Regions from separate parts of the Homo sapiens genome. Here regions 1, 2, 3 and 4 are each linked to region 5. Evidence: fine-mapped expression QTL. A gene starts in region 5. Each other region holds a variant in brackets. All regions are shown on one strand. Distances are between the middles of the regions.

Region 1 (5,132 bases), 810 kb after region 5:
CTTACACACAGAACATGCACTTAAAATTGTCAAAACTCTCCATCTCCAGCATTAAAACAATCATCTTTCAAGAACAAAATCCTTTCTCAGTGTCTCTCAGCCCACAAGCCATGAGAATGTGTCTCCATTTCAAAACCCAGTCTGTACCGTCATGCTTCCGCTGTTTCTCAGCAAGCTGCCTTTCTTTGTAACTTTTTTCTTCCAAATCTGATTGATAGTGAAGCTGGAGCCTGAGATGTAAATTAATAAACCACACCAGGAACTCCTTGCATGGCAAAAGCTGAACAGTACAAATCCATTGTTTTCCTGGATGTGAAATGCCAGTCTGTTCTTGCATGAGCAAACTGGATTAAAGTCACTTTCCTTGGGGCCTGCGGATTTCACAAGGAGAACTGCATCTGAGCAGGACACTTCTTTAAGATGTAGCTTCAAAATGTTTGGGACATTGGACACAATAGTCCTAAGCTGAGTATTCAGGCCGGACTATGGGTGCAACTGGTACTGCCCTGACGAGGGGCCACACAGCTCTAAGTCCTTCTTTGTTGCCCCATGTGCCTTGAATGGATGTTTTCTTATAGGAAGCGGATGAACAAGTTAACACAGGATCTGGCTGGGCTGCTTACTAACTATGTGATCCTGGGCAAATCATTTAATTTTTCTGAGCTTCGGTATCCTGATCTGGAGAATGGAGATGCGAATTTCTATATTGCAGTGGTTGTTAGGGTCATATGTAATGCAGTCTGTAAAAACAGTGGGTCACTTTTAAAGCACTATGTGAATGTTTGGTGTTTTATCAGCTGGATCAGAACACTGGAGTGCTTTTGAGGGAGAAGGCCAAAATGAACTGAAAAGTGATGGGAAGTGTACTCTGTGAAATAGTCATAGCTTCCATTTTTGGAACACTTAACGCATGGCAGACACTATGCTATGTGCTTCACATGGACTTTCTTGGCATTCACAACCACTAACATGGTTGGTGGTGGCATCTTCGTCTTTCAGAAGAGGGGCTAGAGACTTAGAAAGGGTACATGACTTCACTTCCTCTTGGTCACAGAGCTGGAGTGGCAGACTGGGACTCAAACTCCAACATGCCTGATTGCCAGCCCAGGCATTCAGCCAGCACTCTTTACTGCTCTGTCCTTTATACCATTCAGCGCATCTTCACATGGACCTCTGAACAGTCACTGGCCCCAAGTCTCAGGGTTTCATCAGTAAGTACATGAGTAAACCATGAAAGCCAGCTTTGGTCATGAGGAGTAGAAGTAGCACCAAATAGCTCACCAAGAGAAAGGGAGAAAAATTGGAAATTAGCACAATTTGGCTTGCACTGAATGGTCAGAAGACCTGGACCCTCCACCACACTTCTGACATGCAGTGTGACCTTAGGCCAGTCCCATCTTCTCTAAAGCTTCATTTTCCCACTAACCTTAAAGAAGTTCAAGTCAAAGAGCACAGTGATGAGTCCCACAGATCATGCTTGAGATGGTGACAGTGTTAAAATACTGACTCCAAAATACAGCCTGGCAGTTTATCTTCTCGAGTTTCCTGTTTCTATGACACTGTACGGTGAGATGGCCAAATGCAGACTCCAGAGCCAGAATGCCAAGCTCTGCCACCAGCTCCTCACACAACCCTGCACAAATCACTTTAACTCTCTGTGCCTCAGTCTCCTCATCTGTAAAATGAGGGTAATAGGCCGGGTGCGGTGGCTCACGCCTGTAATCCCAGCACTTTTGGAGGCTGTGATGGGCGGATCACGAGGTCAAGAGATTGAGATCATCCTGGCCAACATGGTGAAGTCTCGTCTCTATAAAAATACAAAAATTAGCTGGGCGTGGTGGCATGTGCCTGTAGTCCCAGCTACCTGGGAGGCTGAGGCAGGAGAATCACTTGAACCTGGGAGGCGGAGGTTGCAGCAGTGAGACGAAATCGCGCCACTGCACTCCAGCCTGGCGACAGAGTGAGACTCCGTCTCAAAAAAAAAAAAAGATGGTAATAACTGGACCTAGCACATAAGGTTGTTGTGAGGATTAAATCAGGTAAATATGATGAAGCCATCTGAACCAGTGTTAGCACAATGTAAATATTCAGTAAATGGTAGCTATGATAATAAAAGTAATACATTAGTTTTCAATAAGCACATTATAAACAGAGATGTGGCTAAGAGATCCACCACAGCTGGTAAATGGAGAGGGTGCAGAGATCCTGCTGTCACATGCTTTGCCATACATTGACATATTCTGGAGTAACTGACTGCAAAGCTGAAATGGCATCCCCAACTGAATTTACTGAAATTCATATATTTAATATTTTTGACTGCCTTCTCTTCTTCCCAGTCTAAGACCTGAATATGGGATCTATACCCTTGTTTTTAAGCAGGAGTTCATGTTATAGATTCTTCCTGACCGTAAACCGGGAGTTGGGTGGTTGAGAGAAAAAGAGTAGAGATCAAATACTAATGATCATTTAAAAAAACATATCAGGCTTGTCAGGCACGGTGGCTCACACCTGTAATCCCAGCACTTTGAGAGGCTGGGGCAGAGAATCACTTGGCCCAAGTTTGAAACCAGGGCAACACAGGGAGACTCTGCCTCTACAAAAGAAATTTTAAAAAACTAGCCAGGCGTGGGTGGTACACGCCTGTGGTCCCAGCTACTTGGGAGGCTGAGGTGGGAGGATCGCTTGAGCCTGGGAGGTTGAGGCCGCAGTGAGTTGTGATCACACCACTGTACTCCAGCCTGGGCAACAGAGCAAAACCCTACCTCAAAAAAGAAAAAGAAAAATGTACTGAGGAATCATCCAGGGACAAAATAAAACTCCCTTGAGGTTGACTTATAAGCAGAAGCCTCTACTTACGTAGGTGTAAAAGCAGTCTGTTAACAGATATTTTCCAGGCACAGAAATCCTCAGGAGGCATTTGTTCAGAAGACCTGCACCTGGAATTTAAATGACAGTATGAGCTCCTAGGAAATCTCCTGGAGTAACAGCAGAAGAAAAAGTCAGTTGTTTTCTCGTAAACATGTTTCTCCACCAGTGTCACCAACAGATGCATTTTTAAAAACA[A/G]GAAATAGAAAGCACCTTCTCTTTCCTGCTTAAGACACACAGGTTGGGAAAGTTCCTGTACAGTGAGCAACACATGCCCCCTCATGCTGGTGCTCTGTGCGGGAGAAAACGTGAGGTGTGGCCGTTGCTAAGGAAACCGCTGACACGAGGCAGAGCAGCAAGGTTTGCTCAGCAAGGTGTCTTAGGAAATAAAACACAGTCTAAGCCTATAGATCCCATCACAGAAGAAAGGCAGGCAAGGATCCCGCACAGGAGACGGTAGAAGGCTTCTATTTTCACAACTGATTCTGCAGCCTCGTGCTGTAGCAGTACAGGCTGCAGAAGGTTTGTGGAGGGGAGCGCCGGTCTGCAAGGACGGTCTGTGACGGCTTCAGAATCAGGTGGAGGGCAACTGAGAAGAATGGAAACCACCTCACATTCTCTCCTACCTGGTCTAACTTTACAGACGAAATGCATCTTTCAGCTGCATCACAAGAGAGGAAGCCAAGGTCGTAGGGTCTTCATTTCTGAAAACTGATTGTTCAAGTAAATCCTTCAGTCGTCCCCCTGATGCGACCTGCTAGGGAAGCTGGGAGTGCCTTCACAGTGGCTCCAAGGGGGTGTCCTTATAGGGGATTACATCTCAAGACACATTTTACCCAGCAAGAGGCTGCATGACTCAGCAGTCTGATGAAGAAAGCTCTGTTAAGTTACCACCAATTGCAATTTCTAAGTTAATGATTACAGCTCCACCGAGGAACCAGAACACAGCTGAGGCCACAGAGCATTCCCCGTGCTTACTGGCCAGTGGGGATGATGTTGCCCAGATGTGTGGGTCGGAGCTGAATGGTGAAGACAATGATTTGTGATTCGCAGGTGGACTCTTTAAGCCAGGTGCTACTGAACATGCTCTTCAGTGACTGGGAAGCTCTCAAGAAAGATGATATCACAACAGGAACAGATTATGTTGGGAAGATTCTTGAGAGTTGAGATTAAAATCCAAGAGGAGCTCGGCCAGTAAAATAAATGGTCAGAAAAAGCCATTTGATACTGTCCTACAACAGAAAATACATCTAAAAAATCAAGCTGAGAAGTACAGATGGGAAGGAAGAGGCAGTGGGGTAAAACAACAATCAAACCAACGTGAAGCTACCGAACACACAGAATTCTGGAATATTTAAACACTATCATAATAGCATGTTTCCAAAATTGTCTGATTATAAAAATGGGTATAGAAAACCAACGTCAGACAGGAGCTCTTTCATTTTTTTCTTTTTTTTTTTTTTTTTGTGAGATAGTCTCACTCTGTCACCCAGGCTGGAGTGCAGTGGCATGATCTTGACTCATTGTAACCTCCGCCTCCTGGGTTCGAGCGATTTTTTCTCATGCCTCAGCCTCCCAAGTAGCTGGAGTTTTAGGCGTGTGCCACTACACCCAGCTAATTTTTGTATTTTTAGTAGAGATGGGGTTTTGCCATGTTGGCCACGCTGGTCTTGACCTCCTGACCTCAGGTGATCCGCCCACCTCGGCCTCCCAAAGTGTTGGGATTATAGGTGTGAGCCACCGCGCCCAGCCCTCTTTCACTTTTCAACAGTAACTGAAGTCTGTGTCAGATTGTGAGGAACACCTGTCTGCTGCTTTCTGGAAGCTTTCAGTATTTGAAAAAGTGGCTAGGGAAGCTGCTGGGAAGTCCTTCAATTAACCTTAAAAAGCATGTAATAAAACCTAATTATAGAGCATGCTTCTTTCATCCTCTCTGTCACTCCTTTAGAGAATGTGGTGACTTTCTAAGCCACTGTCCCTGCAACCTCCTAGGATTTAGATGTATGAACATTATTTACAGATGGGAAAAACAGAGCACTGAAAGTTTTGGTCAAGAAAACCGTACGGGTTAGTGATGGGGTTTCTCAATTGTGAAGACCTGAGCTTGACAAATGCATTTTCAGCTTCCCAGGATACCCCTGGCTCCTCAGTGAGCACTGGAAGTTTGTCCCTTCTATAGCAGCCCTTGGCAGTTCCAGTCTAGGGGCAGAAGCCAGCCTGCCACTGCAGAGAAGAGCAGCAAGTTCCAGCCCAGCCGGCGAGCACGC
Region 2 (5,132 bases), 66 kb after region 5:
TGCTTTAAACCATTCATGCCCTTAAATAGCTAGATTTTAAAGCATAATAAGCATATTAACATTTTTAAGCAAAAGATACGTTAACAGTGACCTTTGGTTATCCACAGTAGCAAGAGTAAAGCACAGATCATTGAAATCCATAGATAATCAGTGAATCAACTTTCCTACCAAACAATAGATTCATTTACATTTCTTTTTCCTCCCTATCCTTTCCTGTAAGCACCTGTTTTTCCATGGAATGGGGTTAATGAGTAGGTAGAAAAGGAAAAGGAATAATCAGTAGGAGCTGACAACCAGTGACCATATAAGCAGCTGATTGCCTGTAATTAGTCAGGCTGAACAATTAGAGTTGAATGCTGAAATTAGGAACCACAGGTGGTAATCCTGAGTAGATGTAGCTCTTCAGCGTCATCTCCTGCCCTGAGCTCCAGGCCATCTCTCTAACCACCAAAGAACTCTTAGTACCTACGGGAAGGAAAAGCTGTGTGCGACACAGAGGAAACTCCATTATTTGAACACATTTCTTTGGCTCTTGACAAATACTTGCTTTTCCTCTAATCTTGCAAGAGCTATGGCTCTTCTATTTTCCAATCACACAGCTTGGCATGTAGGAAAGGTTGAATGATCCTCTAAGACTGTGTTGGTCTTCGTATTCTGTAAAACCCATTTTTTTTTTGTGGTCTTACAGATGTTTAGAAAGTGGCACAGGTTACTGAATTGTCTACCTGCCAGCATTCTGATATAGCACAAAAAGCTATTTTCCTTTATTTTTTGTATTATTTTTTATTTTTCTGGCATTGAGCTCTAGGGTGGATGAGGGTTTATGGTCCTCTGATCATAAGCTCCATTCTAAAAACTGGTCACTGTTAGCTGAAATTGCTTTGGTTCCCCAAATGCCTTGGAACTCCAGACGCACCCGCAGGGCCTGAGGTAGGCTTCATAGAGTTCTAGGACTTCCGTGTGCGTTGCCACCAGATCCTGCCCAGCAATGGCCTTTCCCTTCTAAGGTCATTAGATTCAGCCAAAAGCGACCTCTTCTCTAGTCCGGTGTTACGAACAGAAGTTCTGAGTTGTGCTACAAAAGTAGTTCCATCTTTTTGGTGTAATTTTCATGTTTTTAATTTGAAAAAAAAAAAAAAAAAAAAACAACTTTTTATAAGTTTTTTAAGGGCCCTGCTTAGTCAGTGTACAGGGTGGAGTCAGAGGCAGTTTTCAGAAAAAAACAAAAAACAATTTCACCAAGCGGTAGTAATTGTTGTTTTACTAGTTATACATTTAGAATATAAAGGAGGCATCAGAAAACACACTCTCTAAAGCCACTTCCTTGTGCACAGAGTCTGCACAGGGAGAGCACAGGCATCTCCCTGGAAAAGCACCTGCCAATGACGAATTTCATGGAAGAACCTAGGCAAGAAAGGAAGCCTCTTTCTGAGACACAGTCTCTGAGAGGTGAGCCTAGCTTTGCTCTTCCTACAGGGTATGCTTGGGCCATACACAATGCTCGCCTTACTTTAAAGCTATTTTGCCACAGTCCTGTTAAATAGTGTGGACGTCCTTTTGCAGTCTGGTGTGCATGCCATATGATCAGGACAGCTTTTCCACTTTACTCGGTTTCCTACAAGCAAGTAGGAAATACAGTGAATTTACCCTAAAATGTCCAATCTGTATTTATGTACCTTGTCAGTGTTTTGCTGTTGGTTTTCTAAAACAATCTGATCAATAAATCTTATCCAAATCAATTTGGTTCAAGTTCACCTTGATTGTCTAATGGTAATTTGTGTGTACGTGAGCGCACCTATATGACAGAAGCGTCAGTCCTACCCACCTCCACCAGGCTCAGCTTTTCTCTGTAATATCTGTGAGTCATCTGCCTTCCACCCCCACTCCACTGTGGGTTCTTTATCTGCTCATTATCTGGAACTCCTGGACACACAAGAGTTCCCTCACCAGCACACTGCTCCCTCCACAAAGACATCAGCAAGGGAGCAACTGTCGGGCAGCCCACACTCCCTCTCAC[T/C]GCCCCACCCCATGTTCCCCAAACCACTGCTAGACAAGTTTGTATAGGTATATCAAGACTTTTCTGAAGGGTTGGAAGAGCTACAGAGAATTCAAAGGGAAAATGTGAACCCGTATATATAGTCATCTGACTGTCTTTATGATCTGAGGGAAGAGCCCCAGGAGCTGCTGAGCCCTGTGCAGGGGTCCTCTGGGGGTGAAACTACACTTCCTAGCTCTGCCCTTGGTCTTCCAGATGCTTCCCTCACCAAAACAAACCTCTGTTTTATGATGCTGTGATCTCTAATCCTCTAATCCTTCTCCATGCAGTGCTTTTCTCCATGTCTGTGTAGTCCAGAGTAGGTAGGGAAGGATACTCCCAAGTCTGGTCACTTTTAAGGTCTCCCTTCTAGAACTGAACAGATGCCTTGTATTTTTCAGTGTTTCCATTGGTTAACTATTGGATCAAACACACCTTCCATGGACAAATAATCTTAGATATTACAATATACATCTACAAGGAAGAAGAGAAACAATTTCTACCCATTCATCCACCTTACAGTTAATACTTTATTATGCAGAGCAGTCTTCTTTCCTTGGGTTTATTTCTCCTAACTATACTCCTCTCCAAGCTACCAGATATAAGAAATGCACCCTATACCTTTCAGTCTTCAGACCAGCCAGAGCTTTGAAATGGACTCTTATGTGCATCTGATTTGGTTCTTAGATAAGGCATCTAAGACCCATCTTGGCCTAGTGGGAGGAGTTTCAGTGGCCTAGTTGGTTTGCGTGGTTTTGTTCTTCCAGTTTATGTGTATATAATTCTAGTTTGTTAAAATGATGTTGTTAAGCTACTTTAACAACAACCACATTCTCTTGTAGTTAATCTTCTGCAGTAATTGCTTGAGGGAAGAAAACATTGGTAAAACCATCCAGTTTCCCTACTGCCTTCAAATGAAAGGCCAGGTTCTAGCCCAGTGCTAGAGCAATAAAGCTTTCTGCAATGGTGGAAATGTTCTGTATCTGCACCACCCAATATGGTGGTAGCCACAAGCCACATGGGGCTTTTGAGTACTTCAAATGTGGCTAGTATGGCTGAGAAACTGAATTTTTAATTTGATTTAATTTTCATGTATTTATAGGGAAATAACCACACATGGCTAGTGGCTACCTCTTAGTGCAATTCTAGGAAGAGATGACCTGGGGGTTAGGAGACAAGGGCTCTGCTCTTGGCTCAGTCCATAATAGCCCTGTTCTGTATGCAACTTGCTTTTCTTTGGGTCTTGGTTTACTTATCTGTCAAATAGGAGGAGGTTGGCTAGATAATCCCCAAGATCTAACATTATTTAGGATGTTTGGCCAAAAAAGGCTGCAGCATAATGGTGAGTACCATAGGTGTGCAGTGCTAGGACTGGAGTTACCTCTTAAACTCGATCCTGATCTTAAGATCACTGATCCCACCGTGGTGGGAGGTCTGCTGCCCGCTCCAGGTGGTTCCTTAGTGAGTGGCACAGTCAGGATTTCCACTTGCATAGTGCAGGCTCCAAGAAAAAGTATTGAAAATGGAGTAGGGACTAGAACACGGCCACTGCCAAGCCACCTGTAACCCACTGGTTTCAAAACCATGATCCATACTTGTTAACAATACAGATTCCTGGGCCCAAACCCCAAGGATTATATTTTAATAAGTGTGTAATTTTAATAAACTCTTTCATTGATTCCAATTCAGCTGGTTTAAGACATTTGGGAACCCCTGACCCACAGCTGAGCTAACTGGCCAGTGCCGGCCAAGATGAGAGATTTTGTTACCTTACTTTTTATTGTCATATTTCATTGTCCAGCAGGAGACTTCACTGCAAAGGCCAGAATGAACATTTCCCAATCCTTGCCCATTAGAACTCAGTGGCAGACCGAGTACACAGGTATTCTCCGCTCCTTCTTGGAGAACCACTAAAATAATAACAAAATGGCCCTAGTTTCCTTTTCTCTGAAATGGGGCTAACAGTAGTAACCTCTCTCCATACTAGCTACTTATTTCATACTGTGTGGCTGAAATAAGTAGATATGGGTAAGGTACTTCAAATGACGCCTGGCATATAGTAAGCATTATGGAGATATTCACTGTGATTGCTCTCTAGTTGATGGAATAAGAAATAAAACTGAAGGCTGGGCATGGTGGCTCACGCCTGTAATCCCAGCACTTTGGGAGGCTGAGGTAGGCCGACCACCTGAGGTCAGGAGTTCGAGACCAGCCTGACCAACATGGAGAAATCCCGTCTCTACTGAAAATACAAAATTAGCCGGGCGTGGTGGCGCACGCCTGTAATCCCAGCTACTTGGGAGGCTGAGGCAGAAGAATAGTTTGAACCCAGGAGGCAGAGGTTGCAGTGAGTCAAGATCACACCATTGCACTCCAGCCTGGGCAACAAGAGCGAAACTCCAACTAAAAAAAAAAAAAATTTACTAAAAATTACAAAGTTAACCAATAAAGAAGAAACTAAATGTAGGACGAGGGAGGGAGGGTGGTGATGCAAGTGAGCTGAGTCCTGCTCTCCATAGCAGGAAGGGGATAAACAGAATGTCTCAGATTGAAGCAACAGCCAGGTACACGTGTAAATTAGAGAGTAATGGTGGATATCAGGCCAGACATGGTGGCTCACGCCTGTGATCCCAGCACTTTGAGAGGCTGAGATGGGCAGATCACCTGAGGTCAGGAGTTTGAGACCAGCTTGGCCAACATGGCGAAACCCCATCTCTACTAAAAATACAAAAGTTAGCCGGGCATGGTGGTGGGTGGCTGTAATCCCAGCTACTGGGGAGGTTGAGGCAGGAGAATTGCTTGAACCTGGGAGGCGAAGGTTGCAGTGAGCTGAGATAGTGCCATTGCACTCCAGCCTGGGTGACAGAGCAAGACTCCATCTCAAAAAAAAAAAAAAAAAAAAGGTGAGTATCCAAAAAAAAAAACAGCTGCAAGAGCTCATGGTAGTAAGACAGGTGACGACACAGAGGGGCTGTGGCAGTGACTGCTGGTTTTTGAGTGTGATCCTGATTTTTTGTTTTTTTTTTACTTTTTCCGCCTTCCTAAAGCAGAACCTTCTGTAGCTCTTTCAGTCTAGCTCTTCTTCAGAATATGGCGA
Region 3 (5,132 bases), 74 kb after region 5:
AGGAAGGACCCTCCCATGCACACGGTGGGGTGCGTTCAGAAGTGGGGGGATGGAGGGAAAAGGAGAGGGGTCAGGCACCCTCGGTGAAGTGGAGAATTGAGCAGGGGCCTGGGGACACAGAGACACATAAGGGCCAGGGGTCATACCGAAAATGCAAGCACACAGGCTCTTCTGGCCACTCAACCCAGGGAGCAGAAAACAGAGGTGCCAGAGCTCTCAGAGATTCCGAAATCCACACCTCTCTGGTCCTTTCCAGAAAACCCTTCCAGGGGGCAGCTCAGCCTGGGGACAACCACAGAAGTGGGACCTGGGCCCAAAGACAGGTGTCACCTGAAACAGGCCACTGTTGTCCGCCTGCAGTATGCTGGGAGGACCAGCTCCCGCTCCACCCTGCTCCCCCTGGGAGGAAGGCTGACCCCTGCGTGGGAGTGTGACTGCTGGAAAGGCATCCTTGCTGCAGCTGTGAGTGTGATGGGACAGCAGAGTCACTCCTGCATGGGATTCTAGGGCTGGGGGTCCCAGAGGGGTGGCCTCCGCCCCTCCTGGGGGCCGAGGACTGTCACCATGTCACTACGGCACTCTCCAGCTGCTGACCAAAGCCCTCGCTAACCGCAGCCCTGCCATACTCTGGGTCTTTCCTCTGGAGCAAGGTGAAGAGACTGCAGCGAGGCGTGGAATTGGGAAGCTCTTCTGGTTTTATTAAAAACTCGTTCCACCACAGGAGTCAGCCTGGCCACTCAGGTGTGGGGCGGGTCTCTCCTCATTTAGCTTTCACCTGCGTGCCCAGGGATAGGAGAAAAACGGCACAGAGGGAGGTTGTAGGGAGTAAGCATCCTGCCCTGGCAAAGCTGAGTGAACGTGGGTAGCTTCAGCCCAGTGAAGCAGCAGCAGGGACGCCTGTGGAAACCTGGGTGGAGGTGCCTTCTGACCTTGGTTTGTCTGGGCCAGGGGGCGAATGCTTCTGGCAGTGGAGCTTCCAGGCCCGGAAAACCCAGGCCTCTTCTCCTCACGTGGGCCCTCAGGTGCTTGTGGACTGCCCGGAGACAGAACAGAACTGAGGGTGGGAGGGCCTGCTTTTGCCTGCAGAACACCCTGAAATGTCCCATTTACCCAGCTCTCTCCAGGGCCCGCACAGTCCAAACTTCTCTGGCCTCAACTCCTACCACTGTGCCTTTGCTCACTCTCGACCAGCCACGGTGGCTTCCTTGCTGCTCCTTGAGCGGTCAAGCGTGCTCCCTCTTTCTGGAGGTCTCCTCCTCCAGTATCCACATGGCTGTGTGCCTGGCCTCCTTCAGTTTTTTAATGTGGTCTTCTCAATGAGGCAGAGCCAGGGCTAGGGTGAGGCGAGTGAGGCAGCAAGGGCTTTCCTGCCCTCTCTGGTTAAAACTGTATAGTCTTCCCCTCTGCTCAGGACTCTCCACTCCCTGTCCTCTTCCCAAAGAATGGAACACCATCTTGTTTAGTACACACCTTGTTTATTGCCAGACTTTCTCCATTGGAATGGAAGTGCCATGAGGACTGGAAACGTCTCTGCCTTGTTCTTGTTCTGTCTGTATTCTTTAGAGCCTAGCACATAGTAGATGCTCAGTGTACGCTGTCAGATGGAGGGGTGGATGGGGGGATAAATGGGGCCATGGGGTCAGTAGGCTGTGTCCTTCCCCAGTTCCCCTTCCAACAAGTGGGAAGTGTGCTGCGGCCTTAGAAGAGGCTGGCAGAGTGGCATAACACACTCCTGGTGAAGCACACGATGTGAGGCACAGAGGTTACAACTAAAAAGAAAAACAGACTGGCCTTAAAAAGATAACGAAGGTGGATGCTGTTACTGCCACCAGGCCCGTAGCCCCAGCCAGGCTTTAAGAGTCCTTCCACATCGACCAGGTGAGGTGGCTCATGCCTGTAATCCCAGCACTTTGGGAGGCCAAGGTGGGCGGATCACTGGAGGTCAGGAGTTCAAGACCAGCCTGGCCAACATGACAAAACCCTATCTCTATCAAAACTACAAAAAAAAAAATAGCCAGGCGTGGTGGCACTTGCCTGTAATTCCAGCTACTTGGGAGGCTAAGGCAGGAGAATCACTTGAACCCGGGATGTGGAGGTTGCAGTGAGCTGAGATCGGGCCACTGCACTTCAGACTGGGTGACAGAGTGGGTGACAAATAGAAAAAAAAAAAAAGAGTCCTTCTACATGACAACTGCTAGCACAATTGGAGAAATTAAATTCATCCTGAGGCCAAGACTCTGCCCGCTAGGAAAAGCAGGGTGGAGGGCAATAGCCCAGGTGTGCTCCCTGCCCCTACCCCACACCAAAGACTTTTGGGGATTGTGCAGGGGCAGTGGCAATGAGGCAGCTCTCTGTGGGTTCAGCCCAAGTGGGATGTGCTGGAGGCCTCCACCACTACCGATGGGCTCAGCCTGGCAGCGCACTGGGAGGGGTTGGGGGAGAGGAAAGAGGGGAGAAGACCCTCTTAGAACCACACTAGCCCTTCTCTCAGACAGGCAGCCCTGACACCTGCACCGGGGGCTCCATGCTCCTGTCTGCTTCCTGTTCCTCGCTGTGTGTAACCAGCAACAACAGGTTTCAAAGTCCATCCATTGAAACCCCCACTTGCAAAGGGAGTCACCTTCAATTTCCTGCCCGCCTGCCTCTTTCCTGATTCACCTGATAAATTCAGGACAGCTTTTATTGCTTTTGGCGAAAAACTGCCATTAAGATTTACAGAGCTGAAAGCTGGTACAATGTAATCTTCAGAGTAATTTACGCAGTGAGTTTCAAAAGATGAAAAGTTAGCATTTCAGAGGTAATTTCATAAAAAGGATTATCAGATTAATCACTGTGTCAATTTAATAGCGGTGTCTCAAATAATTAATTTGCTTTCTTGAAGTCAGCAATGCAAGAAAGGACTCTAAAAGGAATACAAATGGCTGTGTCAGACAGTAAGTATGTGTTGGGCAATTGATCTTGAGAGAATTCTTCTTGGAATTACACCGGTGGAATGTCAGGC[G/A]TGGGCTCATTGGCACAGAGACAAAACCAGAAAGTGAAAAGCTCTTGGTACACCCAGGTCTCCCGGAGAGCCTTGGGACGTGACTGCTGGGGGCTTGTCTGTACCCACAGAGCGAAAGCTGACCTGCCACGTGTTGAATTGTCCTGTGTCACCTGGAAAATGTGTCTAACCAAGCAAGCCACTGACAGGTTGCTCTAATGGGAGATCCAGGTGTGAATTGCAGCCTGCTTGTGAAATTACCCATGGGTGCTCCGAGGTGGAATATAATCAATGCCTGGGCTGGTTATAAACGCAGCCCTCCCTGTTTCATAGCAACACCACTCCAATCAGCTGCCACATGGCAGGGCAGGGCTGTGTCCTTAGTGGATGCTATGGATTGAATTGTGTCCCTCCCATCCCCCCCAAAAAAATATATGTTGGAATCCTAGCCTACAGAACCTCAGAATGTAACCTTATTTGGAAATAGGGTCTCTACAGAGGTAAATTAAAATGAGGTTCACGCCTATAATCCCCGCACTTTGGGAGGCCAAGGTGGGCGGATCACCTGAGGTCAGGAGTTCGAGACCAACCTGGCCAACATGGCGAAAACCCGTTTGTGCTGAAAATACAATAATTAGCTGGGCGTGGTGGTGTGCGCCTGTAATCCCTGCCACTTGGGAGGGTGAGGCAGGAGAATCGCTTGAACCCAGGAGGCAGAGGTTGCAGTGAGCTGAGATTGTGCCACTGCACTCCAGCCTGGGCAACAGAGCAAGACTCTGTCTCAAAAAAACAAAAACAAAATGAGGTTATTAGAATGGGCCTTAATCTAGTACGACTGGTATCCCTATGAGAAGGGGAAATTTGAACCAAGACACACACACAGAATACCACGTGAAGATGAAGGCAGAGATCTGGCTGACACGTCTGTCTATAAGCTGAGAAATACCAAGGCTTGCCACTAGACCACCAGAACCAGGAGAGAAGCGTGGCAGATTCTCCCTCACAGCCTTCAGAGGAAGCTGACTCTGCTGGCACTTTTACCTCAAAGGCCAGGCCCCAGAACTGTGAAATAATACATCTCTCTTGGTTGAGCCACTCAGTGTGCGATACTTTGTTTTTGTAGCCCTAGGAAACTCACACAGTGGGGCCTCGTGGAAAGAGTCGACTTGAGTGTCTTTGTTCTTAATGTTCCTATGTTTCTCTAAACTTTTTTTATACACAGGCTCGGGGCAGAATGTGAAGATAATGACACACCTCAGTAGGAACAAGCATATTCTCTATGTTACTCACTATTTCTTTTTCTTTCTTTTCTTTCCTTTTTTCTTTTTCTTTCTTTTTTTTTTTCTTTTTTTTTTATTGAGACAGAGTCTTGCTCTGTCACCCAGGATGGAGTGCAGTGGTGCGATCTCGGCTCACTGCAACCTCCCCCTCCTGGGTTCAAGCGATTGTCCTGCCTCAGCCTCCCGTGTAGCTGGGATTACAGGTGCCTGCCACCATGCCTGGCTAATTTTTTTTTCTTCTTCTTTTTTTTTTTTTTTTTTTTTTGTATTTTTAGTATAGACGGGGTTTCACCATGTTGGTCAAGCTGATCTTGAACTCCTGATCTCTGGTAATCTGCCCAAATTGGCCTCCCAAAGTGCAGAGATTACAGACATGAGCCACTGCACCCTGCCCACTATACTTTTTCCTAAAGAACTGAAAGAGGGCACAGTGGCTCACACTCAGCACTTAGGGGAGACATGCTGGTGGATCACTTGAGCCCAGGAGTTCAGAGCCAGCCTGGGTAACATGGCGATACCCCATCTCTATAAAAAAAATACAAAAGAGTTTGCTGGGCCTGGTGGTGCACTCCTATAGTCCCAGCTACTTGGGAGGCTGAGGTGGGAGAATCACTTGAGTCTGAGAGGTCAAGGCTGCAGTGAGCCAAGATCACTCCACTGCACTCCAGCCTGGGTGACATGAGCGAGACCTAAAGAAAAAAGACTCACATTCTTTCTCCTGGGGTTGCTGACCTAAGGCTCTGAGCCTGGAGCTGACAGGAGCCCTGTGACCTCTGCCTGAGGACAGCCTGCCCTAAAGAGAACAAGCCAGCAAAGTAGAGTGGACTCTGGCGACACATGCATACCTGGATCCACACACTTGGCCAGGTGTT
Region 4 (5,000 bases), 28 kb after region 5:
CAGATGCTTAATAAAATGATTGTTGAATCAATACAGGATTGTTGTGAGAATTATATGAGGTAATATATGTGAAAGCTCTTTGTAAACCCTAAACATTATGCAAGTGTTAATTGTTTTTATTGTCAATAAGAGCTATATTTGGGAGCGATCAAAACTTTGGGAAAAGAGATAATTACCCCATAATAGTTCCATTAATTTAATTAGGTTTTTATTCTATTTTATAAGAAAACATATTTTAATTGGGGTTAACATGGAGGTAATTTGCTTCCTGGGAAGGCAGATGAGCCCCTTCCCTCCCTTCCCCCATGGAAGTGCCAAGATATTAAATGTTTGTTTAATTTGGTTGCTGTTTTAAAATTTAATTATAGTAGAGTCAGCTTATTTCGTATTTAAAGAATGGTGCCCATTGCTTTATCTTCTTAACCATATAATTAATATAACCTTGAAGAGAACAGGAGCCTCTGTTATGTCCAATTAGTTTCAGAGCTCCATTTTGAAATTAACTGACTTAAAAATGTCATCGTTTCTAATCTGTTCATAAAGCTCCTGGTGAATTTTTGCCACAAGATGGCATTGGTGATTATTGAGTGCACATGCTATTGAACCAGAATTCCCAAAAACGGTGCACAAAATTGTATTCTTTTGGGGGTAAGAGTTGAAAACCTTCATCACTGCTTATATGTTAATTTAATTTTGACTTCCAAAACAGGGTTAAATGCTACTTTACGTCACTTTCTTTCTGTATTCAAGTATTGTTTTGTTTCCTGTTTTTCTGTCTTTATAACTACAGTAACTATGTATTATTTGCAATGTGTTGTATGTGTCTGACTTATTGCTGATAATTGTGGTAACAGGTAAGAAGAAAATACGATGGGACCCAGTTAGGAGGCGCTTCATTCAGTCCTGTCCCATCATAAGGATCCCTAACAGGTTTTTGAGAGGTGGGTGATAATTAGCAAGAGATCTGTGCTTCGTATGGGTTAAAGGGAACTTTGAATGAATTTTCTAAGCTCAAAACTCTGGTTTTTAAAAATCATCTAAACAGCTAATGAAACAGTTGGAATAAGAAAAATCTAGAACTTAATTTTAAACCTGTTTCTTGTTGGCCACTATTGGGATTGTAATTGTAAGTTTCAGGGAGTCAGAATCACTTAGTGTATTATTAGATGGTAGAGATAAATCATCTCACTGATATAAATGGTATTCCACAGTAGCCATATTAGAAAGAATTTTGAGTGAATAATCTATAAAATATGGATGTGGGAAAGAATTTTCTAAATATGATTCTAAGGAAGAAATAAAAGATTATGTAATGGTATAAAATAAAAAACCTCTTATGTCAAATGTCATATATTAAAAGATAAAAAAGAGAATTATTTGTTAACAAAGGGGTAATATGAATATATAAAGAGTTCTTATAAACCAATAGGTTAAAAACAAATGCCCACTAGAAAAATAGGTAAAAGGATATAGAATTACCAGTTTGTTAAAAAGAAGTGCCAATAATTATGAACAAGTATTTATTTTTACTATTATTATAAACACAACAATTAAAACAATAAGATGTTTTTACCTATTAGATGAGCAAAGACCAAAAATAAGAATACCCAATGTTGGCAAGGGTATGGGAAGATAAAGCTCATATATTGAAGGAAGTATAAATTTTATACAGCTTTTCTGAAACCAGTTTGGTAATATGTATTAAAAACCTTAGAAATATTCATACCCTTTGACCTAGCAGTTTTTACTTTTAGAAATGTTGCATTCCTTCTACTTTTTATTTTTTCTACTAATACATACTCCATACTGAAAAAAGAAAATCTCAAAAGAGGGTTGAAAACTCTGGTTCACACTATTTTTCTAGATACAACAAATTATCACACAAGCATACTTAATGTTGTAATTTAGACTGTATTAAATTATTTACAACCCAGTGTATCTAATTTTAACTGGAGTTTTTTTTTTTTTAACCTAGGAAAAAATCCTGCAACTGCTATAGATGTTTCTATATCTAGTTCCTAACCTATTTTTGTCACCTGAGCTCCAGAGCATGCATAAAATCAACCATAAAATGGGTCAAGATAAGATCCTCAAGATGGTGTACCACCTTTTAGCATGAGTAAATTTTGTTAGTAAGAATTAAGGACCAGGCTGGGTGGCTCATACCTGTAATCCCAGCTCTTTGGGAGGCCAAGGTGGGCAGATTGCTTGAGCCCAGGAGTTCAAGACCAGCCAGGACAACACGGTGAAACCCTGTCTCTGTAAAAAATACAAAAATTAGCTGGGCATGGTGGTACACACTTATAGTCGCAGCTACATGGGAGGCTGAGATGGGAGGATCACTTGAACCCAGGAGGCAGAGGTTGCAGTGAGCCATGATTGTGCCACTGCATTCCAGCCTGGGCGATAGAGTGAGACTTTTCTCCAAAAAAAAGAAAAAAAATTAGATGATTTTAGTATTATCCATTGTACACACATGGCCAAGCAGGCATGTCTAATTCTATAGCATTTTTTCTTTTTTCTATTTATAAGTTAGAATGCCAATTTACCAATTTCCAATGAGAAATCTAACTTGTGCTGAATAAAGCATAAATTAAACTTCATTTTAGTTATATTAATATAATTAATTATACATACTAAATATAAGCATAATTAAGGAATTGTTTAGGATATATAATTCAACATAATAATGATATAAAACACATAAACATAAAAAACAAATAGTGACATAACAGGTTGTATCTGTATGATGGGGATTTTATTTTCTTTTGTATGGTGTTTGTTTTTCAATTTTTTGATTGTGGAGAAAAAAGATTGCACAGGTAAGTTTTATACCATTGGTTATTTGTAAGCCCTCAATAGCCTCAATCAGTGGTTGAGAAAGGTGGCCCCTGGCAGTGCTGGAATTGAGGTGGGAGTTAACTCAGCATCAGCAACATCAGGATCACTAGTG[G/A]CCTTCTTTTAGTTCTCACCTTCTTTAACCTCTTTGTAGTGTTTGAGGCTGTTGACTACTTGCCCTTCTTAAATTTTTCTCTTTTTTTGGGTTGCTTTACTGTATAGTTCTAGATGTTTTCTTCCTACCTCTTTGATTGTTCATTCTGTTTCCTTCACTAGCTTCTTTCTTCCTGCTCCCTCAAGGTGGATATTGTTCCAGTGTTCTGTCCTCTCCATTATCTCCTTTAGTTGTCTCATCAACTTTCACAGGCTTAAGTCTCTTCGTTTGTTCGTTCGTTCATTCTTTCATTCTTTCAGTATTTCTTGATTGCTTCCTATGTACTGTGCTAGCCTGATGATCTAAGTAATAGAGAATCAGGTAAACAGACAATTACAGAATAATTTGAGTATAATTATTTGTGGTAAGTGTTCTGATGAGGTAGCATGCTATGGGAGCACACAGGAGAGGTATCTGACTCAACTTGGCTGAAGGAGGGTGACAGAGGAGTGGCCATGAGGATGACATCAGAAGGGATGTGCTTAAAGGCTGAGTAGGTGTCAGCAAAGGAGGGTTGGATCCTCTCAAACCATGGGGATCAGGCAGCTTGAGTAAAGGCATTTAGGCAAAACAGGACATGGTGTTTTTAGAGATGTAGAGAAAGTTCAGCACAGTGGGAAAGAGGTGGACAAAAGAGGCTGGAGAGGGCCCAGATCAAGTGGGCACCACCCAAGTGGAGTTTTCAGGATCAGATTTGGTTTTTTAGCTAGTGAAGAAATTTAATTAAAGGCTAATTATGAGATTATTATAGTTATTAGTGTGCAAAATGATGGAGACTGAAATGAGGGTAGTTGTAATAGGAATGGAGAATAGGGGCCGGGCATGGTGGCCTACACCTGCAATCCAGCAGAGTGAAACCCTGTCTGTCTACATACACACACATGCACGCATGTACAATTAGCCGGGTGTGGTGGGGGCATGCCTGTAGTCCCAGCTACTTGGGAGGCTGAGGCAGGAGGATTGCTTGCAACTAAGAGTTCGAGGCTACAGTGAGCTATAATCATGCCACTGCATTCCAGCCTGGGTGAAAGAGCGAGGCCCTGTCTCATTAAAAAAAAAAAAAGTAGAGAATTGATTTGACATATAAGGAAGTGGAAGTGAAATTAGATGTAGATTTTAGGCAAAGGATAATAAATTCAGTTTAGTCTCTCCAGAACAACCAATAATAGCATTAATAGCATATCCTTTAACACTCAGTCCAAGAGTATTTCCAGGGAAACTTCCTTGGCAGGCCTCTCCCCTCTTTGTTCTGATGGCACCCTCCGTGTACCTACCTATATCATAGCACTTATTGCACTGAATTGTAGTTGTTTACTTGTCTGTGCCTCCCATTAGACTGTAAGCTCTGTAAGGGCAGGGACAATAGGACAGTGCCTTTCATATCTTTACTCCAGTTTGTAGCATAGTGCATGTAGCAGGTATATCATATGTATTTGACCTTGAATTAAAGTATTGTAAAGGCCACTGTCAGAAAATAGGATGGGAGTAACATTTTATTATGTTCTCAACTTCTCTCTGGTATTGGTGACAGTGAACTAATGAATTGTTGAGAACATGAAAATGCTATTGTTTAATGCTTCAATAGGTTGTGTGGTTTTGCTTGTTTGTTTGTTTTTAACTTATCTATACTTTTGAAATAGCCACTTTGAAGCCTGATATTTTGGAATTCTTTATATCACCTCTCTTGGTTCAGATTGTAGACAGTTTCATAGGGCCCATTTTCTGTCACTAGATTCCTCTTCACTAGGTCCTACATCTTCTCTAAAACATATTTCTACCAATTAAAATTGTGGTGTAGTGAAAACAGTAATGGCGTAATGAAAACAATGGTTTTTATTATAAAATGGCAGACTTAACATACCCATTTACTTTTCCCTACTTCTCAGATGTCATTGGAAATGACAAAACAGACATAAGACAAAGAATAAATCATTGTAATTAAAAAAAAAAAACAAAAAAAACAGAAAAGGGAGACTTTGAAACTAGATTACTTGTGTCTGAATCCAGG
Region 5 (5,123 bases):
CATTCTTAAAGGTTCCACTTCTCCAGATTGTTGCATTGGGGATTAAGTTTCCAACACATGAACTGTGGGGGACACATTCGAATCATAGCAGTTACCCATATAGCTACTGAGCCAAATCTTGGGACTACTAAAACTTTTTATGTTATGTTATGTTATTTTATTTTATTTTATTTTTATTTATTTATTTTTTTTGAGACGAGTCTCGCTCTGTTGCCCAGGCCGGAGTGCCGCGGCGCTATCTTGGCTCACTGCAACCTCCGCCTTCCAGGTTCAAGCGATTCCCCTGCCTCAGCCTCCAGAGTAGCTGGGATTGCAGGCGCGGGCCGCCACGCCAGACTAATTTTTTTTTTTTAAATATTTTTAGTAGAGACGGGGTTTCACCGTGTTAGCCAGGATGGTCTCCCTCTCCTGACCTCGTGATCCGCCCCCCTCGGCCTCCCAAAGTGCTGGGATTACAGGCGTAAGCCCCCGCACCCGGCCATTGTATGTATGTATGTATGTATGTATGTATGTATGTATGTATGTATGTATGTATTTTTGAGACGGAGTCTTGCTTTGTCGCCCAGGCTGGAGTGAAAATGGCACGATCTCGGCTTACTGCAACCTCTGCCTCCCGGGTTCAAGCAATTCTCGTGCCTCAGCCTCCCGAGTAGCTGGGATTACAGGCACCCACCACCACGCCTGGCTAATTTTTTTGAATTTTTCGTAGAGACCGGGTTTCACCATGTTGGCCAGGCGGTCTTGAACCCCTGACCTCAGGTGATCCACCCACCTCGGCCTCCCAAAGGGTTGGGATTACAGAAAGTGTTAGGATTACAGACATGAGCCATCGCGCCCAACCAAAACTTTATATGTTATTTTCTTATTTCATCTCTCCCAGTTGATTAATTAAAAAGTGTTACTTAAGAATCTACTTTGGCTGGGCGTGGTGCTCATGCCTATAACCCAATGCTTTAGAAGGCCAAGGCAGGAGGATGGCTTGAGGCCAGGAGTTCTAGACTAGCCGGAGCAACAAGGCAAAACCACCCCCTCATCCCCACACACTGCCCTATCTCTACAAATTTGCTTTGCAAATTGGGAAAACAGCATTTCATAGGATTTCTGTGAGGATTAGACAGGTTAAACATGTAAAATGTGTAAGACTGCATTTTGCCTATATACATAAAAAACTGGCCAGACGCAGCAGCTCACACCTGTAATCCCATCACTTTGGGAGGCCAAGGCAGGTGGATTACCTGAGATGGGGAGTTGGAGACCAGCCTGACCAACATGGTGAAAACCCATCTCTACTAAAAATATAATTAGCAGAGCGTGGTGGCACATGCCTGTAATCCCAGCTACTTGGGAGGCTGAGGCAGGAGAATTGTTTGAACCTGGGAGGCAGAGGTTGCAGTGAACCGAGATCATGCCTCTGCACTCCAGTCTCGGCGACAGAGTAAGACTCCGTCTCAAAAAAAAAAAAAAACAGTTAACATATATTAATTTTGGTTTTTATATTTTAGAACCATAGGCTTTTTTTTTTTTCAAGTCTCAAACATTTTCATAAGCAGCGTGCTATGGTGCTAGTGACTAAAACATTTCTGCCTACAGGGACTGGAAGTAGGAAAACAAGGAGGCAGTGCCAGTGGCGACCAGAAATTTGCACACCAGGTACAAAGGGTATTTGTCCTCAGCTCCAGCAGAGTTTCTTTTTTTTCTCTGCAACCATGTAAGGTTCTTCTAATGCAAAAGAAAAAAAAATCTGTCACATCTAAGGACCTTGAAAAGTTTTGTTTCCCTTGAGGAATTTGATATGCTTTTTCCTTATCATTCAGAAACATCAGTGTATAGTATGTTTTCCCAGTCTGCATTGCGCCCAGTAAGTTTCAAGCCAAAATTTCTGTTTAATTTTGGAACAATAGAAACTCCTGATCGGCACATTAAAAATTTTCTTTGATCTTGATCTTCCATACCCGTTGCTGCCTTTTATTTAATTTTACATTTCCTCTTGATTATATATCTTCCAAGCTGATTAAAATTTTCTACTAGCCAAAAGGAGTTTGAGCGAACAAAAATATTTACAGAGCCATCAGCCATCTATGAGAATACCTTTTTCTTGGCATTCCACACACTGCCAGGTGTTATTTGAAAAGTCTTTACTGATGTAATAAACCAGAAATGGTTTCTCATTGGGGTTTTATTTTGTATTTCTAAGATTACAGGTGAGAGTGAACATTTTCCCATATTTGTTAACCAGGTTTAAAACTGTTTGATTGGGACGTGGCTTATACAGGGACAAATGCAGCTAAGCCGACTGAAAGACAAATGAAACCCAGGAATATCTGGTTCTTACATTTTAGCTTTGACTCCGCCCCTGGGTCCCCTCACCTACCCGGACCCCAAGCAAGCCCTTTGTGTGTGTCAACCATCAGTGAATGGGATCTCAATCTGAAAAGCTGGCAGAATACCGTCTTGCCCCCAAATATGTGTATTATGCGTATATCCAGTGTCTGATTGCAATGTTTATGGGAAAAAGTTCCTGAATCCTAACCAAGACTGAGGCACTGGCCGTCCCCGGGAGTCTTTCCGCAGGCGCGGCCTCTGACACTCGGTCTTCGATTGGCCCGCCTGGCCCCGCAGGAGTCGGGGTGACGCCGGCCAGCCCAGAGCGGACGATGAGAGCTAGGAGTGGCTGCTTCTGCCTTTCTCTCCCCCTACTTTTTTTTTTTTAGCCATAGCTATGGTTACCACGTTTCTCTCCGCCTCCCGCCACCTACCAAGAAAACGACTGACCATTGGCTGCCTTTCACCAAGGCGGTAAGTCATTGGTCTCTGGTGGGACCGGGCGCTGCCCCCTTCCCCTGTCTCCTGGGTCTCTGGAGGAGCCCAGGAAGGAGGCTCCGCTGGTTCCGCTGGGTCAGGCGCTGACGGGACCGGGCTGCGGCAATCGTTAGCGGGTCATGTCGGCCGCCCAGGGCTGGGACAGGAACCGCCGGAGGGGAGGAGGCGCCGCCGGCGCTGGTGGCGGAGGTAGCGGGGCCGGCGGGGGCAGTGGGGGCAGCGGGGGTCGGGGGACTGGCCAGCTCAACCGCTTCGTGCAACTCTCCGGGCGGCCGCACCTGCCAGGTGAGTCGTGGGACAGGGTCCTGACCGCTTGCGGGCGGGAAGGTGACTGCTACCTTTTCTTTTTCTCCCTGGCTTGCTTTTCCTTGGGAGGAGGAAAGGCAGGCCCCACGCATAGCAGAGGGACTGGGGATCAGAGAAAAGGGAAGGTGTCTTTGAGGTCAGGGAGGGAACAGGAGCACAGCGAAGAAAAGTATCTGTGCTCTGTTGAAAGCTCTGTGCTGAGAGTTGTGTTTTCTTTTCAAAGGAGAGGCCACTGTCTCATTGACATTTCCAAATGTTTCGGTTACTCGATTCCCAATCTCTTCCCCTTCCGCAGTTTGATCTTGTAAATGAAAGACATTGGCGCCTAGCTGTGGGAAATTATTTCAAAAAGGGTGCCAAGTTAAGGAGAGAAGAAGGAAACGCATTCCAAGGAGTGATTTTGTAAAAACTACACGGGGCGTGTGTGTAAGAGGCATTCTGAAACGGAAGAAAGGGGTGGGGGAGTGTTGGCTGGGGAGTGTATGGGAAAGAGAACCTAGAGGATTAGGGAAAACTAGTTGGATTATTAATATTTTGGAATGTTCAGAGACAGGATAATGGTGTCTAGGTTTTAAGGGGAGAAAGTGAAGATCAAAAATATACTTAGTGACACAATTATGCTGTGTTTACAATATAAAAACAACTGAGAATTGGAAAAATGTACCCAATACAATTATTTGACATTTTGGTCTACAGTGCCCTAGCCTTGAGTTCAGATGCTTTTGAAAACAAAATAAAATCAAGTGGATATGTATGTGTAGACAATTTTAAAGAGGTATGTTTGTAATTGAATATTCAATCTAGTAGAAGGAAGGTAGGGAATTAAATAATGCAGAGAACGTCAAATATCCCACTGGGCAAGCTTATTTTTACTATGAAAAGAACTATCAGGAATGATGTGTTAATTATTCATCGTGTTTTTTGTGAATAATATTGATTATATTAGTGATATATTTGTTTAGCTGATGAGTTTTGAGAACATGATGAATTGGTTTTTATGAATTGTGCTTAAGACTGTACCTTATACTTCTAGTCAAAAATTATTATTTGATTAAATTGAAGATGACAAAGGGAATTTAGCACATTTAATGAGACAATTGCTTATGTTCGTGATGAGGTTGTTGATGTGTGCTAGAAATGTACATTACCCCATTTATATGCATTAAATCGAGGCATTTGTAAGTAGTCATATAATATACCAGAAGTTGGGTTTGAGACGTTAATATCAGACTGGGCATCCTAGAATTGCTAAATATACGATCTTTAACATGAAAAAGAAAAAAGGAGCAATCTTTTTTCTTACTCCCAATTAATAATAAAAACTTAGATTTTTGTGTATTGGCAGCTTAGAAGATGAATCTCTTAGCAAACACTGTCACCAGTTTGCCCTCTACTACCGCAATCTTTAGGTCTTTGATCACGGATTAATTATACCATGGGCTTCAAGTAGGCATTCCTAGGTTCCTAGAACCTGCTTGGTGCACTTCCTCACTTCAACCACGTGATGGCAGTGGAAGCCATGATTTCTGCTAAGGGGCTTCAGTGTAGAGCTATTTCTGCATTCCCTTAGCACACAAGACCAAGAACAGCCATTTATCCGGAGGTAAAGATAAACGTGTCTAAACTGTGAAAATTTGTAAAGCGGGGTCATCAGTCTCTTTTTTCTGCTTCCCTTTTCTCTTGACTGACACTTCATTGCTCCTTTACTCATTCTCAAAATTGGGACACATCTGATACCTCAATGTATTATGTAGTTTGAAATTCTTTCATACCAATTCTTTATTCTGCTAGGTATTGCATTTTAAGCCTCTCCCTTTTCTTGCATTTTGATAGATTTTAAAAGATTTTAGGTGATGGGGAGGAATAGGATGTCTAGGCTTGGTTGACGGGCCTTGGAGATAAAACCTTTTATTTTAAATTTATTTATTTATTTATTTATTTATTGAGATGGAGTCTCACTCTGTCCTCCAGGCTGGAGTGCAGTGTCGCGATCTCGG

Direction of the effects. Alleles are on the strand shown, and positions count from the first base shown. SD is a standard deviation of normalised expression in the study named. Not every link is listed here.
For the expression in lung of the gene that starts at base 2,830 in region 5, allele A in region 3 goes with a higher level than allele G (small effect, 0.22 SD a copy in GTEx).

Evidence for each region. PIP is the estimated chance that this variant, and not a neighbour inherited with it, causes the effect.
Region 1: its variant is fine-mapped to the expression of KLHDC10 in whole blood (TOPMed, PIP 0.99).
Region 2: its variant is fine-mapped to the expression of KLHDC10 in whole blood (INTERVAL, PIP above 0.99).
Region 3: its variant is fine-mapped to the expression of KLHDC10 in lung (TOPMed, PIP above 0.99).
Region 4: its variant is fine-mapped to the expression of KLHDC10 in whole blood (TOPMed, PIP 0.95).

The regions. Positions count from the first base shown.
Region 1 is chr7:130,881,461-130,886,592 of GRCh38, forward strand. It overlaps LINC-PINT (long intergenic non-protein coding RNA, p53 induced transcript), which reads right to left. Exons shown (of 8, transcript NR_170176.1): 7 at 2,857-2,936; 8 at 1-1,276. Among named protein-coding and RNA genes, the nearest start is that of MIR29B1, 6.5 kb to the left of the region's middle. RefSeq lists an enhancer at 5,017-5,132. The variant A/G (reference allele first, on the strand shown) is at 3,064.
Region 2 is chr7:130,133,967-130,139,098 of GRCh38, forward strand. KLHDC10 (kelch domain containing 10) reads left to right here. Exons shown (of 10, transcript NM_014997.4): 10 at 1-1,739. Among named protein-coding and RNA genes, the nearest start is that of LINC03008, 5.2 kb to the right of the region's middle. The variant T/C (reference allele first, on the strand shown) is at 2,018.
Region 3 is chr7:130,141,899-130,147,030 of GRCh38, forward strand. It overlaps LINC03008 (long intergenic non-protein coding RNA 3008), which reads left to right. Exons shown (of 2, transcript NR_149034.1): 2 at 361-720. Among named protein-coding and RNA genes, the nearest start is that of LINC03008, 2.7 kb to the left of the region's middle. RefSeq lists an enhancer at 1-394. The variant G/A (reference allele first, on the strand shown) is at 3,002.
Region 4 is chr7:130,096,067-130,101,066 of GRCh38, forward strand. KLHDC10 (kelch domain containing 10) reads left to right here. Exons shown (of 10, transcript NM_014997.4): 2 at 855-941. Among named protein-coding and RNA genes, the nearest start is that of KLHDC10, 28 kb to the left of the region's middle. The variant G/A (reference allele first, on the strand shown) is at 2,954.
Region 5 is chr7:130,067,705-130,072,827 of GRCh38, forward strand. KLHDC10 (kelch domain containing 10) reads left to right here and starts at 2,830. Exons shown (of 10, transcript NM_014997.4): 1 at 2,830-3,105. The coding sequence starts at 2,940. RefSeq lists enhancers at 2,345-2,544, 2,575-2,764 and a silencer at 2,865-3,034.